Regions from separate parts of the Homo sapiens genome. Here region 1 is linked to region 2. The links come from fine-mapping of genetic effects on gene expression. Tissue or cell type: whole blood. Region 2 holds a variant in brackets; the other region holds the start of a gene. All regions are shown on one strand. Distances are from middle to middle.

Region 1 (8,108 bases), 39 kb before region 2:
TCCAGAGCCTTCTCCAAAATTAGATGAACCAGAGAAACTGACAGCACTTCCACATTCAAGTTGTCTACAAATGACAGATGCATGATCTATGTTGAAGTTATCATCACACACTGTTCCCCACCGTCCTTGGAATTTGATCTCTATTCTTCCAGAACACATATTCCCTCCACGCGTCAGCCTCATTTCCAAATTGGATCCATCTGGAGCAGAGAAAAGACCAGAGTTCAGAAGTTACATTCATTTAGAAGTGATTTTAGAAAAGAAGTTTCCTCTGGACACTTGGGATTTTATGTTGTCCTTAAAATGGTGCCTGATTTTGGACATTGCCCAGCTCCACACGGTAGAGAATTTTAATATGTTAAAATCTAGGAAGCAATTAGGATTTTTATCTATATCTACTTACAAAGGAAAATGTTTACAGGTTAAAGTTTTTAAACTTTCTGTTTTGTTTTGTTTCCATCTATTACTAGGACAGATGTAAATACTCTTTTTTGTACAGAAATAGATAAATTCGACTCAAGTTATTTAAATTTGACTCAGGTTAAAGCTTTAAGTGTATAAATTTCAAAAAGCAAATTGATTAACTCCACTGGTAGTTATAAAACAACAGAAAAAAAGAGCTAAAAGTACTACACTGTTTTAGCTAAACAGCCAGTTCTATACACAGCAATAATTATGATAAGAGCCTGCTAAAATTTATGATAATTTTAAACTTTGCAGTAGATGTTACTTTTGTTATTCCCCATTTCACACCTCCCATAGTGGTTAAAAATAAGAGGAAAGAAGGAGGAGAAGGAGGAGAAGGAAGAGGAAGAGGAAGCGGAGAAAGAAGAAAGAGAACTGAGTCACCAAGAGAACTGAGCCATGAGGATCTTCAGCACCTGTTACATACCAAACAGTGTACCAGTAGTTTTACATGTATTATATCATTGAATCCTCAGAAACTGAAGTTTAGAGAGATTTGACAACTTGCACAAAATCACAGGATATTAGCTATGTGAAAATTTATTTCAGCATTTTTCTAGATGCTACTGTGTGTTTCTCTTATCACATCATGATGCCTGGACAGAGATAAGTCCTTTCTATAGTCAGTCCTATGGGAGAGAGAGAGGCTGGGAGGTGAGAGGATTGTATAAAAATTAATGAAACAGGCCAGTCACGGTGGCTCACACCTGTAATCCCAGGATTTTGGGAGGCCGAGGCAGGTGGATCACCTGAGCTCAGGAGTTCGAGACCAGCCTGGCCAATATGGTGAAACCCTGTCTCTACTAAAAATACAAAAATCAGCCAGGTGTGGTGGCAGGTGCCTATAATCCCAGCTACTCGGGAGACTGAGGCAGGAGAATTGCTTGAACCCGGGAGGTGGAGGTTGCAGTGAGCCGAGATAGCGCCATCGCACTCCAGCCTGGGGGACAAGAGCGACAATTCGTCCCAAAAAAAAAAAAAAAAAAAAGGAATGAAACAAACAAAAAGAAATGGGGATCCCAGGAATCTGAGTTGGATCAGAAATGTGCCCTTGGGATTTGTCAGCAGAAAGGCCTGACACATGACTTTCTCAGTTATTGTGGGGTCAATTGCAATAAAACATATGGAGATGTTTTGTAAATTAAAAGCACAATGTAAATGAAATGACTAGCATTGCACACTGGTCAAGCAATTATACTTTCAAAGAATCCTTCCTACAACAAGAAATGATGTATTAATGCTAGAAATAGTTGTTTTTTGATTTACTAAGTTGATTATCAGTTAATGGACAAAATGGTAATAATTTGTGGGTCAACATATCAAAACAAGTCACTGGGAAAGAACAAGGAAATAACTTAGATGTCATGATATTTTTATGATATAGGAATAGTAGGTTACAGTAAGCTTACTGAATATCAAATTTAAACCACCACTTCTTGGCTTTTTGGCTAAGATCATGTATAAAATTGAAGCCAGTCACCTCCTCATTAATCACAGTGTTCAGAATTTTTTTTATTAAAAAAAAATGACCTCGTGTTTTGTGGTTTTCTAGCAATGGATGGAGTACTTTTATACATGAACTAGATTGCTTACAGGAAAGTGGCTTATTCTAGGTTTTAACCCATCTACATATTTTTTTCCCACCAAGGATTTTGTGTTGAGGCTTTGACTAATGCAAGTCTTACCTGAGCAGGTCACTCCAGCATCTTGTTGGTGAGTACAGTTACTATGCTTTCCCCATCCATCATGTTTGCAATCCCAAAGAGCTGACTCATTCCCACGACAAGAAACATGATCCATCCAAATGCGTCCAGAACCTGCACTGGAATTAGCCCATCCAGGGGCTTTGATAGCAGTTGGACATCCCAGCTGGTTACAAATCACAGAGACCGCTTCCATGCTCCAGCCATTATTACACACCGTTCCCCACTCCTCCTGGACTTTCACTTCCACTCTCCCGCTACACTTGTTTTCACCATCCACTAGCCTCAGCTCCTTGTCTGTTCCTCCTGCAACAATGGATTAAGACAGTAATTGGCCAAGGTCGCAAAGAGCAAGTAGAAAATTATTTTTTTACATTACTTATTTATCCTTCAAACTCAGATTTGAGAACCATCCTAGTCCTATCCATGGTAAAACAGAAGAATGTTATTTCACAGTCATTCAAATATAAGTATCAGTATCACTGGTTTCAAATTAAGCAGTGCTATATGACCAGTAAAGGTAAGTAACACAATAGTGTTTAATAGCTTTATTTTATGGCTGGATAGCCTTAATAGTGGCAATTTATATAATTCCTGTGAAGCATTTTCGAGTTAAATAAGATGCTACAAAACGTTATGGGGATGAACTTTTTACATTTCTCCAAAATCCTAAGGTCGATAGAAAGAAGGCTGATAGAGAATTTATGAAGATGAAAAGACTAGTTGTAAGAAATTTAACTCTTATTTCATACGTATATGTAAAATAGCATAAATCTTAAAAACGCTAGACTGAAACTTATCTAAAATTAAGATGGAGATATTTTCTGCTATTTTCTACCATAAAATAAACCTCTTTGTACTCTCTTCCCATCCCCAGATGATAGATGATCTCAGTTGCCTCCTTGGCATTATTTTAGCTTTATGTAGGAATCTGGTCCCACCAACCTGGCATCTCTCAATACATTTTTAGATAAATTTTGGCATTTGAATTTACTAATGTGTTTCCCAAATTCACTTTTGTTTTAATGATTCTGAAGTTTCTCCTCCTTTGTATTCTTTCCTATTTTTCAGTTCAACATTATTTCTAATCTTTAAGTAAAATTCATTTCTCTCCTGTGAGTTTATTTCATTTGGTGAGGAACCATGCTAATATTTTGGTTAGATTTTTATTGTGTGCTTTTAATAATATCTGATCCTTTGAATACATGGAGCATGTCACCTAGTTTTTAGATGCTACTTGGCCTTCAGAAAAATTGTTTGCCTTTTAACTGTTCTTGTCAGAGTGGGCTAAGGCTGTAAGTAAATTTGACAAAGTACTCACCAAGAGAACTGGTGACAAAACAGGCACTGAGAAGTAAGACCACAGTAATGGTGAAGGGACTCAAGTTGACAAAATGTCTTCTGAAGTCTGTGAAAAAGAAAAGAGGGCAAAAGTAGCATCTTCCCAAAAAGAGACTTTGGAGAAGATAGATGGTTTCAGAGGTTAATTAACAAAGAAGCTCAAACCAAGACAGAAAACTCTTCATTCTAAATTGCAAGGCAGGCAGAAAACATTCATACCCAGGCTCATATAGTTTCAGTGAAATGGTTTTGAAAATGTTCATGTTTATAGGCAACCTAGAGGTGACGGATTAGCAGAAGGTTGGTGGTGGAAACGAGAATTGCAAGGTCAACCCTTAAAACCTGGAAAATGGAAACAACATCAATGAAACTTAGTAGTGGACAATTCTCCCAGCAGGCACAGGGAAGGTATCCTGAGATTTCTCTATTCCCTAACCACCTTGATATTCAATTATGGATGCCCCCATCTTTAAGACTACCTAGCCGCACTGATAGAGGATAAGTTCCATGAGTAAACGAATTATATCTATCATGTTCACCATAATTTCACCAGTACCTGGCTTGATGCTTGCCAAATAGTAGCTAGCAGAACAATACCTAAGTGATGATATCCATATCTGAAAAACTCAAATATTAAATCTTGTCATCTCTACCTGTATCCTTATCACATAATACACTCTTTAATGCTGTTATTACTCTCATATCTTCTCGTTACTCTAACCCAACACTAATTTAAAACTAAAAATGCTAAATGATTTTAACATGTCCAAATAAGTCTTAAAATAGATAACTCACTTATCAGAGTAGATAACTTTCTTTATGTAATTAACTCTCTATCAATATTCCTTTCTGCATATTCTATCTTTTCTAACAACTATTTTTTCATACTCAGTACATTTCAGTTAACTTTAGTTCCTGACTTAATTTCACCTCAGCAGTTTTACAAAATTAATGCCGACTCTGATTCCCATATCACATCTTCAATTTTGAATCTATGGCAGATCAAAGGTGCTGCCATATAAGCCTATGTCCTTTTTCCACTCCTTACTCTCCTGATGCCAATCACTTTTAAATCACATCCATTGACTGTCATAATAATTACATACCCCATTAAAGGGGAAATGTAGAATAAATGAGAAGCTTTTACCAGCAGATCCAGAGTCTTCAAGTAGCACCATTCTGAGTTTGCTCATTCCAAAGATTTATAACTTCAATGATTCCTAAATCTTCTTGTATTATTCCCTAGAAATGTTCTTCTAAAGAAAACAACTAAGAATTCTAAAAATCACTTCACTTTCATGAAAATGAAAAGGCTACATATGGAGGCGGAGTCAACTCAAAAAGGGAAGTCATTGAAAGAGCTGAGGTTCCATTTCATACTCATGTTTTCTTCAATATAGCACATGAAACAACCAAAGGAAATTGGGAAACACTTCCCACAGATTTCGAAAAATTAGAGGAAATACTAACTCATATGCTGCTGTTGCTGAATTAAATATTTTACATTTTTGAACTTCATTTTGGACAAATATATAAGACACAAAAAATTACTAATTGTCATGTAGAAAAATTATGTAAAAAACTAAAGCAAAACAGGCAAAACATAATTAAATAACATTTTATCATATGCACTTTTAATTTTATTTCCATAATCAAATGTGTCTAATGAGTAATTTTGTGTAAGTTGTTGAGACACAGCATTTGTCATTTCTTTTCTAATGGGATGAAGTACACCAAGAGAATTAGCCATGACTATTACTGATATTACAAATGGTGAAACAAAAATTAGCAACACATGATTTTAGCTCTATATAACTCAGATTCAAGTAAGAGAAACACATATGATAACAACAATGAACATAAAGCTAAAGTGCAGTGTTAAAAATAATGGACAAAGTAGTCCTATCTATTGAGAGAAAGGAATGAACAGTCAGAAAACTATTTTCTCTGAGGACAGGCTTAAATTGTGTCCTAAAAGATGAGAAAAACATTGCCAAAGGGACAAATGATAAAGGAGTTTAAGGCATAAAAAATAGCACATACAAATGAATATTTGTATATAAAAACATATAAGCTCAAAAGAACTACTAATAGTTCATCATGGCATACATATTGTCAGGTGTTAGTGATGGGCCTGAAATGGGGAATTAAAGAGCAACTCCAGCCTTCCAGAGAGACATTCACTAGAACCCAGTCAACAAAGGCACCCCAGTTTTCTTCCACTTCTCAGGCATGCCAAATCTCTCCCTGCCTCATGGTATGTCATACATATTGTTCCTTCTGTGTTTACTGCCTCCCTACCCGTACCTTTCTCTAAGATAACTCTCACTCACGTATACTTTATTTCTCAGTTAAACCTCCCTTCACTAGGAGAAATAACTCTAACGCTGAAAGACCCCAGAAAATATGCACTCATGATAGCCTGTACTTATGAGGGTTGTCAATTATATATATATTTTTTTCCTTTTTTTAAATTATTATTATACTTTAAGTTTTAGGATACATGTGCACAACATGCAGGTTTGTTACGTATGTATACATGTGCAATGCTGGTGTGCTGCACCCATTAACTCGTCATTTAGCATTAGGTATATCTCCTAATGTTATCCCTCCCCCCTCCCCTGACCCCACAACCGTCCCTGGAGTGGGATGTTCCCCTTCCTGTGTCCATGTGTTCTCATTGTTCAATTCCCACCTATGAGTGAGAACATGTGGTGTTTGGTTTTTTGTCCTTGCGATGGTTTGCTGAGAATGATGGTTTCCAGTTTCATCCATGTCCCTACAAAGGACATGAACTCATCATTTTTTATGGCTGCATAGTATTCCATGGTATATATGTGCCACATTTTCTTAATCCAGTCTATCATTGATGGACATTTGGGTTGGTTCCAAGTCTTTGCTATTGCGAGTAGTGCCGCTATAAACGTACGTGTGCATGTGTCTTTATAGCAGCATGATTTATAATCCTTTGGGTATATACCCAGAAATGGGATGGCTGGGTCAAATGGTATTTCTAGTTCTAGATCCCTGAGGAATTGCCACACTGACTTCCACAATGGTTGAATTAGTTTACAGTCCCACCAACAGTGTAAAAGCATGCCTATTTCTCCACATCCTCTCCAGCACCTATTGTTTCCTGACTTTTTAATGATCACCATTCTAACTGGTGTGAGATGGTATCTCGTTGTGGTTTTGGTTTGCATTTCTCTGATGGCCAGTGATGATGAGCATTTTTTCATGTGTTTTTTGGCTGCATAAATGTCTTCTTTTGAGAAGTATCTGTTCATATCCTTCGCCAATTTTTGATGGGGTTGTTTGTTTTTTTCTTGTAAATTTGTTTGAGGTCATTGTAGATTCTGGATATTAACCCTTTGTCAGATGAGTAGGTTGCGAAAATTTTCTCCCATTTTGTAGATTTCCTGTTCACTCTGATGGTAGTTTCTTTTGCTGTGCAGAAGCTCTTTAGTTTAATTAGATCCCATTTGTCTATTTTGGCTTTTGTTGCCATTGCTTTTGGTGTTTTAGATATGAAGTCCTTGCCCATGCCTATGTCCTGAATGGTATTGCCTAGGTTTTCTTCTAGGGTTTTTATGGTTTTAGGTCTAACATGTAAGTCTTTAATCCATCTTGAATTAATTTTTGTATAAGGTGTAAGGAAGGGATCCAGTTTCAGCTTTCTACATATGGCTAGCCAGTTTTCCCAGCAACATTTATTAAATAGGGAATCCTTTCCCCATTGCTTGTTTTTGTCAGGTTTGTCAAAGATCAGATGGTTGTAGATATGCGGCATTATTTCTGAGGGCTCTGTTCTGTTCCATTGATCTATATCTCTGTTTTGGTACCAGTACCATGCTGTTTTGGTTACTGTAGCCTTGTAGTATAGTTTGAAGTCAGGTAGCGTGATGCCTCCAGCTTTGTTCTTTTGGCTTAGGATTGACTTGGGGATGTGGGCTCTTTTTTGGTTCCATATGAACTTTAAAGTAGTTTTTTCCAATTCTGTGAAGAAAGTCATTGGTAGCTTGATGGGGATGGCATTGAATCTATAAATTACCTTGGGCAGTATGGCCATTTTCATGATATTGATTCTTCCTACCCATGAGCATGGAAGGTTCTTCCATTTGTTGGTATCCTCTTTTATTTCATTGAGCAGTGGTTTGTAGTTCTCCTTGAAGAGGTCCTTCACATCCCTTGTAAGTTGGATTCCTAGGTATTTTATTCTCTTTGAAGCAATTGTGAATGGGAGTTCACTCATGATTTGGCTCTCTGTTTGTCTGTTATTGGTGTATAAGAATGCTTGTGATTTTTGTACATTGATTTTGTATCCTGAGACTTTGCTGAAGTTGCTTATCAGCTTAAGGAGATTTTGGGCTGAGACGATGGGGTTTTCTAAATATACAATCATGTCATCTGCAAACAGGGACAATTTGACTTCCTCTTTTCCTAATTGAATACCCTTTATTTTCTTCTCCTGCCTAATTGCCATGGCCAGAACTTCTAACACTATCTTGAATAGGAGTGGTGAGAGAGGGCATCCCAGTCTTGTGCCAGTTTTCAAAGGGAATGCTTCCAGTTTTTGCCCATTCAGTACGATATTGGCTG
Region 2 (8,108 bases):
CTGTTTCTCCAGGATTGGTCCCTGGTGTCTTATTTAGTTCACTTGGTGAGGTCCTGTTTTACTAGATGGTGTTGATGCTCATAGACATTCTTTGGTTTGTGGGCATGGAAGAGTTAGGCATTTACTGTAGTCTTCACTGTCTTGGCTTGTTTGTTCCCATCCTTCTTGAGAAAGCTTTCCAGATATTCCACAGGGCTTGGGTGTTGTGATCTAAGCTGTATTTGCTTTAGGGGGCACCTCAAGCCCAGTAATACTGTGGTTCTTGCAAACTTGTAGATGTGTCACACTGATGGTCTTGGACAAGATCTGTGAGAATTATCTAAATTACTAGGCAGAGATTCCTGTTCTCTTCCCTTGCTTTCTCCCTCTCATAATGTTTTAAATAAAAGTTATAAAAGTAATATTTTCATCAATTATTAAATCTCATGTAATTAAAATTTTGTTTGCTTGACCTTGATTAGCAATTTCCTGAGCCCATCAGTTTCTTCATCAGAATTCCGGAAATTTTTATTTAGTCTATTAATTTTAAAATTATTAGAACTATGAGTTTAAGAGTACTTGTTAGAGTCTTTTTTATGAAAAGCAATTTTGGACTATAGCCAATTATAAATAATTATAGAGAAAAATAAAAATAATAACTATGGATAACAAAGACTTAGAATAGTTATGGTTAAAATATGATGAAAGTTCACAGCTGAAAAGAAAATTTAGTTTTCTTGTCATTTCTTTACAACATTTTAAGATAACAACCAGAATCATGATTGTGAGCTCATAACAGGTCCACCAGACTTTCATAGATTTCACTTAATCTTTAGAATACTTAGACCAATAACATCCATAAAAATATAACTTAAAAGAAGATTTAACCTAACAACCAAAATTATGACTAACATATTAGATTTTTATAAATTTATATAATTTTTGAAATATTCATCTCAATAATTTATCCATAAGTACAACTAAAAGAAGATCTAGTATCACTTGTCATTTGACTATGCTTTTTATATCATTTACCAAATAAGCCTAATCATTTAAAATCTGCAGGATGAGAGATGTGTTCTTTGAGTCTCTCTAGGGGCTTAGATTGAAAATTTCAAAGTTAATTTTAGTTCAAAAAGACTTCATTTAGAATTCTGGTCCTTGGAAAGCCTGCCAAAGATATCAAAAGGTTCAAAACACTTGATCAAAACAGAATAATAGGTCACTTTGAAATAGCAGTCATTTATTAAACCATAGTGAAAATAAAGACTTCAAAAGCATTAAAGAAAGTTACATGGATTTTAAAAACCTTAACCTCTCAAAGTTCTGCTTTCCTAATTTAAAAAACTGATAAAGATGACATTGGAAAATTATCTTGATAAAATGTAAATTCTTTTTTGTTTATTAGGCTGGGTACCAAAAAAGTTAAAAAAATTAAAAAAAAATTTTTAAACTAAAACAAAAACTCCTTCACTGTGATTGCTTCTCCTTATGGGAAGCCCATTTAGATATCCTTGAGGTTGAGTCTGATGAAGAAGGCACTTGATTTTAATCAGATGTGGGAATAATGATGTCCAAAGCTATGAGTGTACCACATATTATAGAGGAATGTAAACAAGAAAACTATTATCTTGAGCAGGGGAATACATGGTTTTTCAGGACAGTATGGGAAGTATCCTGGATACATGGAATAATTTAGACACATTAAAAAAACCACTAGTACGGAATCAAATTGGGGAAAAACTTTGAGATATTGGCTTTCTTACACAATTCAGCCAGTTCGGCTAAAATGTAAACATTAAAAATGTAACCCTACAGTTATTAAAAATTGAAAAAAAGCATAAAAGTAGGCTGCTAAAAATCAAACTGCTATGGAATCTGCTTTACCCCCAATTTTGGCCCATTAACTTAATTAGGACAAGTGATGTTTAGCCATGTGAACAGGCCTCATTTTGTCAAAAATATAATTTGGATCCAACTGCTTTTTTTTTTTTTTTTTTGAGAAAGGATCTCACTATGTTGGCCAGACTGGACTCAAACTACTGGGCTCAAGGGAGACGCTAATCTCAGCTTCCTCAGAAGCTGAGACTACATGCATGAGCCACTATAACCAGTTTTTTAATCCAGCTGCCTTTTGTAAACCAGTAAGTTTGTTTTACTGTCTCATGGCTAAAATTCTAAAACAAAAGCTATAATACATTTGTGTGAATGTATGTGTGTTTAGGTGTGTTTATCCATGTGTACATGTATTATGTCATATATTGTGTTTACATGGTAAAATCTGATATGGTCAGCCAGAAATCTCTTAAGAAATTTTACTCAGATTGTCTTAGGTAAATGAGCATCAGGCCATAATAGCAGAGTTAGAACTGGAGAAAAATAGTTATGGGAGCTGACAAAAAAGTTGAAGGGGAGACTTATCACCCCAGCTAATCAAAACAAACAAACAAACAAACAAACACCTTTTCAAGGGGAGAAAGAAAAAGAGCAAAAGGCAGTGATGCATTCCTGCAAATCATATGCAAGGAGGTACTTTTTGTTTGGTTGACTAGTCAATGCAGATGGGGAAGCGCTTTAGAAGTTATGTTTGTTTGTTTGTTTTGCTTTGTCTGTTGGTCCCTGTGTGGCAGACAGAGCAATTTTTGTGGCAGATACAGTTTACGTTATTTCTCTGAGCTCAAGATTTTGATCTGTTTAATCTGAGAGCTTAACTTTTTATAAACGTTTGTCTAGTTCTTTTTTTTTCAGAATATTAATTATTCAACTAATTGTTCCATCACCCTGAGCATACATTGGTCAGACAAGCCTAACTAAATATGTACATTTTCAAAAGGTGTTTAGGTTGTTGGTTATAATGAAGCTGTTGTAATTTGTAAAGCCATTCAGTTGAAAGCTTTTTAAGACTTTTTAAAAAGTCTTGGCTGGAGCGCCATAAGCCATCCATTTTATCTCAACACCAATAGAAGAGTTATCAGATTCAAAGTAGGCAGGAAAAAAAGTAGAGACAGACACAAAACTTAGAAAGCTTTACATGTTTGCTCCATAGTTGTAGGGTTTGTTTGTTTGTTTTGTTTTGTTTTTTGAGAGAGTTCAAACAGTGAACACTTGACCTCAGAATTTTTCTTGCTGCTCCCTTCTCTCTGGGATCTGTAATTAATACAGTGCTTCTGTTATTTCATGTGTTTTGCTATGTTGGCTCCTCTGTTTCTCACCTGACCAATACACCTGAACTGAACACTCCTCCCAGGCAGGGCTCTCTTAGAGAGTGGCTATCTTGGTAGGAATAAACTGGACACAGGTCAGAGAAGAGTGCAAGAACATCTGCTAGCTTAATAAAGTTTCCTGTGAGAGGAACACCTGGTGAAGGGGCAGACACTTAGGCATTGAGTTGTCTTCCAGGATAAAAAAAAGTGTCCCATGAAAGACACACTGTAAACACCCACTGCAACCTCTTCTGGAACAAAAACTCGAGGAAAATCACAACAGCTGGTCTTCAATGGCAGTTGAAAATCAAAGATGTCAAAGAGATCACCTACCAGGATCTTTCTTTTCAAAAGAAACATAGAAGGAGTCGCCAGATCTATGTAAGAAAATCCAGCAGGAGGTGAGACCCCATAGCCAAAAAAAAGAAATATTCAAAACAGAAACTGAGGGAAGAGAGAGACCCTCTCATATTTTTTATATTGTTTTAAACTCAGAAAAGGAAAGAGAAGTGAAACTAAAGGCAGGTAGCCTGGCGCCTGGGAACCAGACCAGAAACCAAGGAACCAGACCTGAAATCAGGCCAGGGCCTGCCTGACCTAAGCCTGGTAGTTAAAATTCGACCCCTGACCTAGCAACTGTTGTTGTCTATAGATTCCAGACATTGTACGGAAGGACACTGTGAAACCTCCCGCTCTGTTCTGTTTCACTCTAACCACCGGTGCTTGCAGCCCCTGTCACGTACTCCCTGGCTTGCTCAATCGATCAAGACCCTCTCACGTGGACCCTCTTAGAGTTGTGAGCTCTTAAAAGGGACAAAAATTGAGCACCTGATGAGCTCAGATGTTAAGACGCTAGCCTGCCGATGCTCCCAGCTGATTAAAGCCACTCCCTTCACTATCTCGGTGTCTGAGGGGTTTTGTCCATGGCTCATCCTGCTACAAGACAATTGTCCATGTGTCAAATCATATTAACACATCAGACAAAATAAAGATTGTAAAGATTCTTCTGGATTTGTAGAGTGCAGGTCAATAATGAACTTGGTGAGAAGAGTTTCAGTGAAGTTATTTTTATTTTTTGTGAAATATGAATAAATGATGTAGTACAGATTGTGAGTGAGCTTAATGACAGAACTGAAGGCCAGGTGAGGATAGGGAGAGTGATTTAAAGTGTTTTCTATCTGCTCAGCTATGTTGTTTTATCCAGCAGTGATCACAGCCAAAGGAGGAAAACAGAATGAGAAACAGGATCCCAGTGAAATTTAGCTATCATGTCTCTCTGGGTCACCCACTCACAACTTCCCCATCATTGTGTAACAGTTCATCATTCTTACTAATTCCAGAAAAAAAGTATACTGCAACCCTGCCAAGAAAGAGCTACTTCCCATTCTTTCTGTTCCAC[T/C]CTACTGTCTAAAAAGATTTCTAGTCCTTGTGAAATGTTCTAACAGGAATGCTATAGATGACAAGTTCTTCTGGTACTCTTAACCATTTACTGCAGTTCCCAAAAGCAGAGACAGTAAAAATTTGCCTAAAATGAAAGTCAAATGTCAGTGTTTTCAGAAAGAGGAATAGTTTGTTTCTTAAAGGAATGTCAGATTGTTTACTTTGTGTCAACTCAGAAATTAAAGACAAGAAAGATAACATTAACATAATCTACCATCAGAAAAGCAAACAGAGAAAAACAGCAGTGCAGACCAACAAGAGTTCCTACATCGTGTGCTGATTTCAGTCCTCCATAATCATAGCACACCTGTATATAGTTCCAAAGGGGCAGTGAAAAACAAGAAAGAATGTATTGATTTACACAATGCTCTTTGCTGAAAATTAAATGAAATCTCTATGAACATGAGTTTGAATTCTGGCCCTGCTAAGTTGAACTGATAAAGTGGAAGGAGGAAAAGTGTGGGCCTTGCTGTTCTGTCACAGTGTTTGAAAGGGCATTCAAATTATTTGCATCTCAAGAAAACATCTTGGAGAGCACTTCCAAGATGGCCGAATAGGAACAGCTCCGGTCTGCAGCTCCCAGTGAGATCGACGCAAAAGACGGGTGATTTCTGCATTTCCAACTGAGGTACCTGGTTCATCTCACTGGGACTGGTTGGACAGTGGGTGCAGCTCATGGAGGGCGAGCTGAAGCAGGGCAGGACATCGCTTCACCTGGGAACTGCAAGGGGTCGAGGGATTTCCTTTCCTAGCCAAGGGAAGCAGTGACAGACTGTACCTGGAGAAACAGTACACTCCTGATGAAATACTGCACTTTTCCCACAGTCTTAGCAACCAGCAGACCAGGAGATACCCTCCTGTGCTTTGCTCAATGGGTGCCACACCCATGGACCCTTGCTCACTGCTAGCACAGCAGCCTGAGATTCACCTGCGATGCAGCAGCTTGATGTGGGGAAGGGTGCCTGCCATTGCTGAGGCTTGAGTAGGTCACAGTGTAAACAAAGAGGCCAGGAAGCACGAACTGGGTGGAACCCACCTCAGCTCAACAAGGCCTACTGCCTCTATAGATTCCACCTCTGCAGGCAGGGCATAGTAGAACAAAAGGCAGCAGCTTCTGCAGACTTAACCGTCCCCATCTGAAAGCTCTAAAGAGACCAGTGGTTCTCTCAGCACAGCGTTCTAGCTCCAAGAATGGACAGACTGCCTCCTTAAGTGGGTCCCTGACCCCCGTGTAGCCTGACTAGCAAACACCTCCCAATAGGGGCCAACAGACACCCCAAACAGACAGGTACCCCTCTGGGATGAAGCTTCCAGAGGAAGGATCGGGCAGCAATATTTGCTGTTCTGCAGCCTCTGCTGGTGATACTCAGGAAACAGGGTCTGGAGTGGACCTCCAGCAAACTCTAACAGTCCTGAAGCTGAGGGACCTGACTGTTAGAAGGAAAACTAACAAACAGAAAGGAATAGCATCAACATCAACAAAAAAGACATCTACACCAAAGACCCATCTGTAGGTCATCAACATCAAAGACCAAAAGTAGATAAAACCACAAAGATGAGGAGAAACCAGGGAAGAGGAGCTGAAACTTCAAAAAAATAGAGTGCCTCTTCTCCTCCAAAGTATCGCAGCTCCTCGCCAGCAAAGGAACAAAACTGGACAGAGAATGAGTTTGATGAGTTGACAAAAGTAGGCTTCAGAAGGCCGGTAATAACGAACTTCTCTGAGCTAAAGGAGCATATTCTAACCCATCGCAAAAAAGCCAAAAACCTTGAAAAAAGGTTAGACAAATGGCTAACTAGAATAAACAGTGTAGAGAAAACCTTAAATGACCTGATGGAGCTGAAAACCATGGCATGAGAACTTCATGATGCATGCACAAGCTTCAGTAGCTGATTTGATGAAGTGAAAGAAAGGATATCAGTGATTGAAGATCAAATTAATAAAATAAAGTGAGAAGACAAGATTAGAGAAAAAAGAGTAAAAACAAATGAAAAAAGCCTCCAAGAAATATGAGACTACGTGAAAAGACCAAATACACGTTTGACTGGTGCACCTGAAAGTGATGGTGAGAATGGAACCAAGTTAGTTAATATCCAACTCTTCAGGATATTATCCAAGAGAACTTCCCCAACCTAGAAAGACAGGCCAAAATTCAAATTCAGGAAATAAAGAGAACACCACAGAGACATTCCTTGAGAAGAGCAACCCAAGACACATAATTATTAGATTCACCAAGGTTGAAACAAAGGAAAAAATGGTAAGGGCAGCCAGGGAGAAAGGTCGGGTTACCCACAAAGGGAAGCCCATCAGACTAACAGTGGATCTCTCTAAACAAACCCTACAAGCCAGAAGAGAGTGGGGGCCAATATTCAACATTCTTAAAGAAAAGAATTTTCAACCCAGAATATCATATCCAGCCAAACTAAGCTTCATAAGTGAAGGTGAAATAAAATCCTTTACAGACAAACAAATGCTGTGAGATTTTGTCACCACCAGGCCTGCTTTACAAGAGCTCCTGAAGGAAGGACTAAACATGGAAAGGAACAACCAGTACCAGCCACTGCAAAAACATGCCAAATGGTAAAGACCACTGATGCTATGAAGAAACTGCATCAATTAACAGGTAAAATAACCAGCTAACATCATAACGATAGGATCAAATCCAAATATAACAATATTAACCTTAAATGTAAATGGACTAAATGCCCCAATTAAAAAACACAGACTGCCAAATTAGATAAAGAGTCAAAACCCATCTGTGTGCTGTATTCAGGAGACCCATCTCACATGCAGAGATGCACATAGACTCAAAATAAAGGGATGGAGGAAGATCCACCAAGAAAATGAAAAAAAAAAAAAAAAAAAAGGGTTGCAATCCTCGTCTCTGATAAAACAGACTTTAAACCAACAAAGATCAAACAAGACAAAGAAGGCCACTAGATAATGGTAAAGGGATCAATTCAACAAGAAGAGCTAACTATCCTAAATATATATGCACCCAATACAGGAGCACCCAGATTCATACAGCAAGTCCTTAGAGACATACAAAGAGACTTAGACTCCCACACAATAATAATGGGAGACTTTACCACCCCACTATGAATAGTAGACAGATCAACGACACAGAAGGTTAAAAAAGATATCCAGGACTTGAACTCAGCTCTGCACCAAGCAGACCTAGTAGACATCTACAGAACTCTCCACCACAAATCAATAGAATATACATTCTTCTCAGCACCACATCACACTTATTCTAAAATTGACCGAATAATTAGTAGTAAAACACTCCTCAGCAAATGTAAAAGAAAAGAAATCACAACAAACTGTCTCTCAGACCACACTGCAATCAGATTAGAACTCAGGATTAAGAAACTCACTCAAAACTGCACAACTACATGGAAACTGAACAACCTGCTCCTGAATGAATACTGGGTAAATAACAAAATGAAGGCAGAAATAAAGATGTTCTTTGAAACCAATGAGAA

The links. PIP is the estimated chance that this variant, and not a neighbour inherited with it, causes the effect.
Region 1: it holds the start of CD163, and the variant in region 2 is fine-mapped to the expression of CD163 in whole blood (TOPMed, PIP 0.94).

What each region holds. Positions count from the first base shown.
Region 1 is chr12:7,498,989-7,507,096 of GRCh38, forward strand. CD163 (CD163 molecule) reads right to left here and starts at 4,789. Exons shown (of 17, transcript NM_203416.4): 1 at 4,657-4,789; 2 at 3,490-3,576; 3 at 2,151-2,474; 4 at 1-200. The coding sequence starts at 4,702.
Region 2 is chr12:7,538,475-7,546,582 of GRCh38, forward strand. No RefSeq gene overlaps it. Among named protein-coding and RNA genes, the nearest start is that of CD163, 39 kb to the left of the region's middle. The variant T/C (reference allele first, on the strand shown) is at 4,582.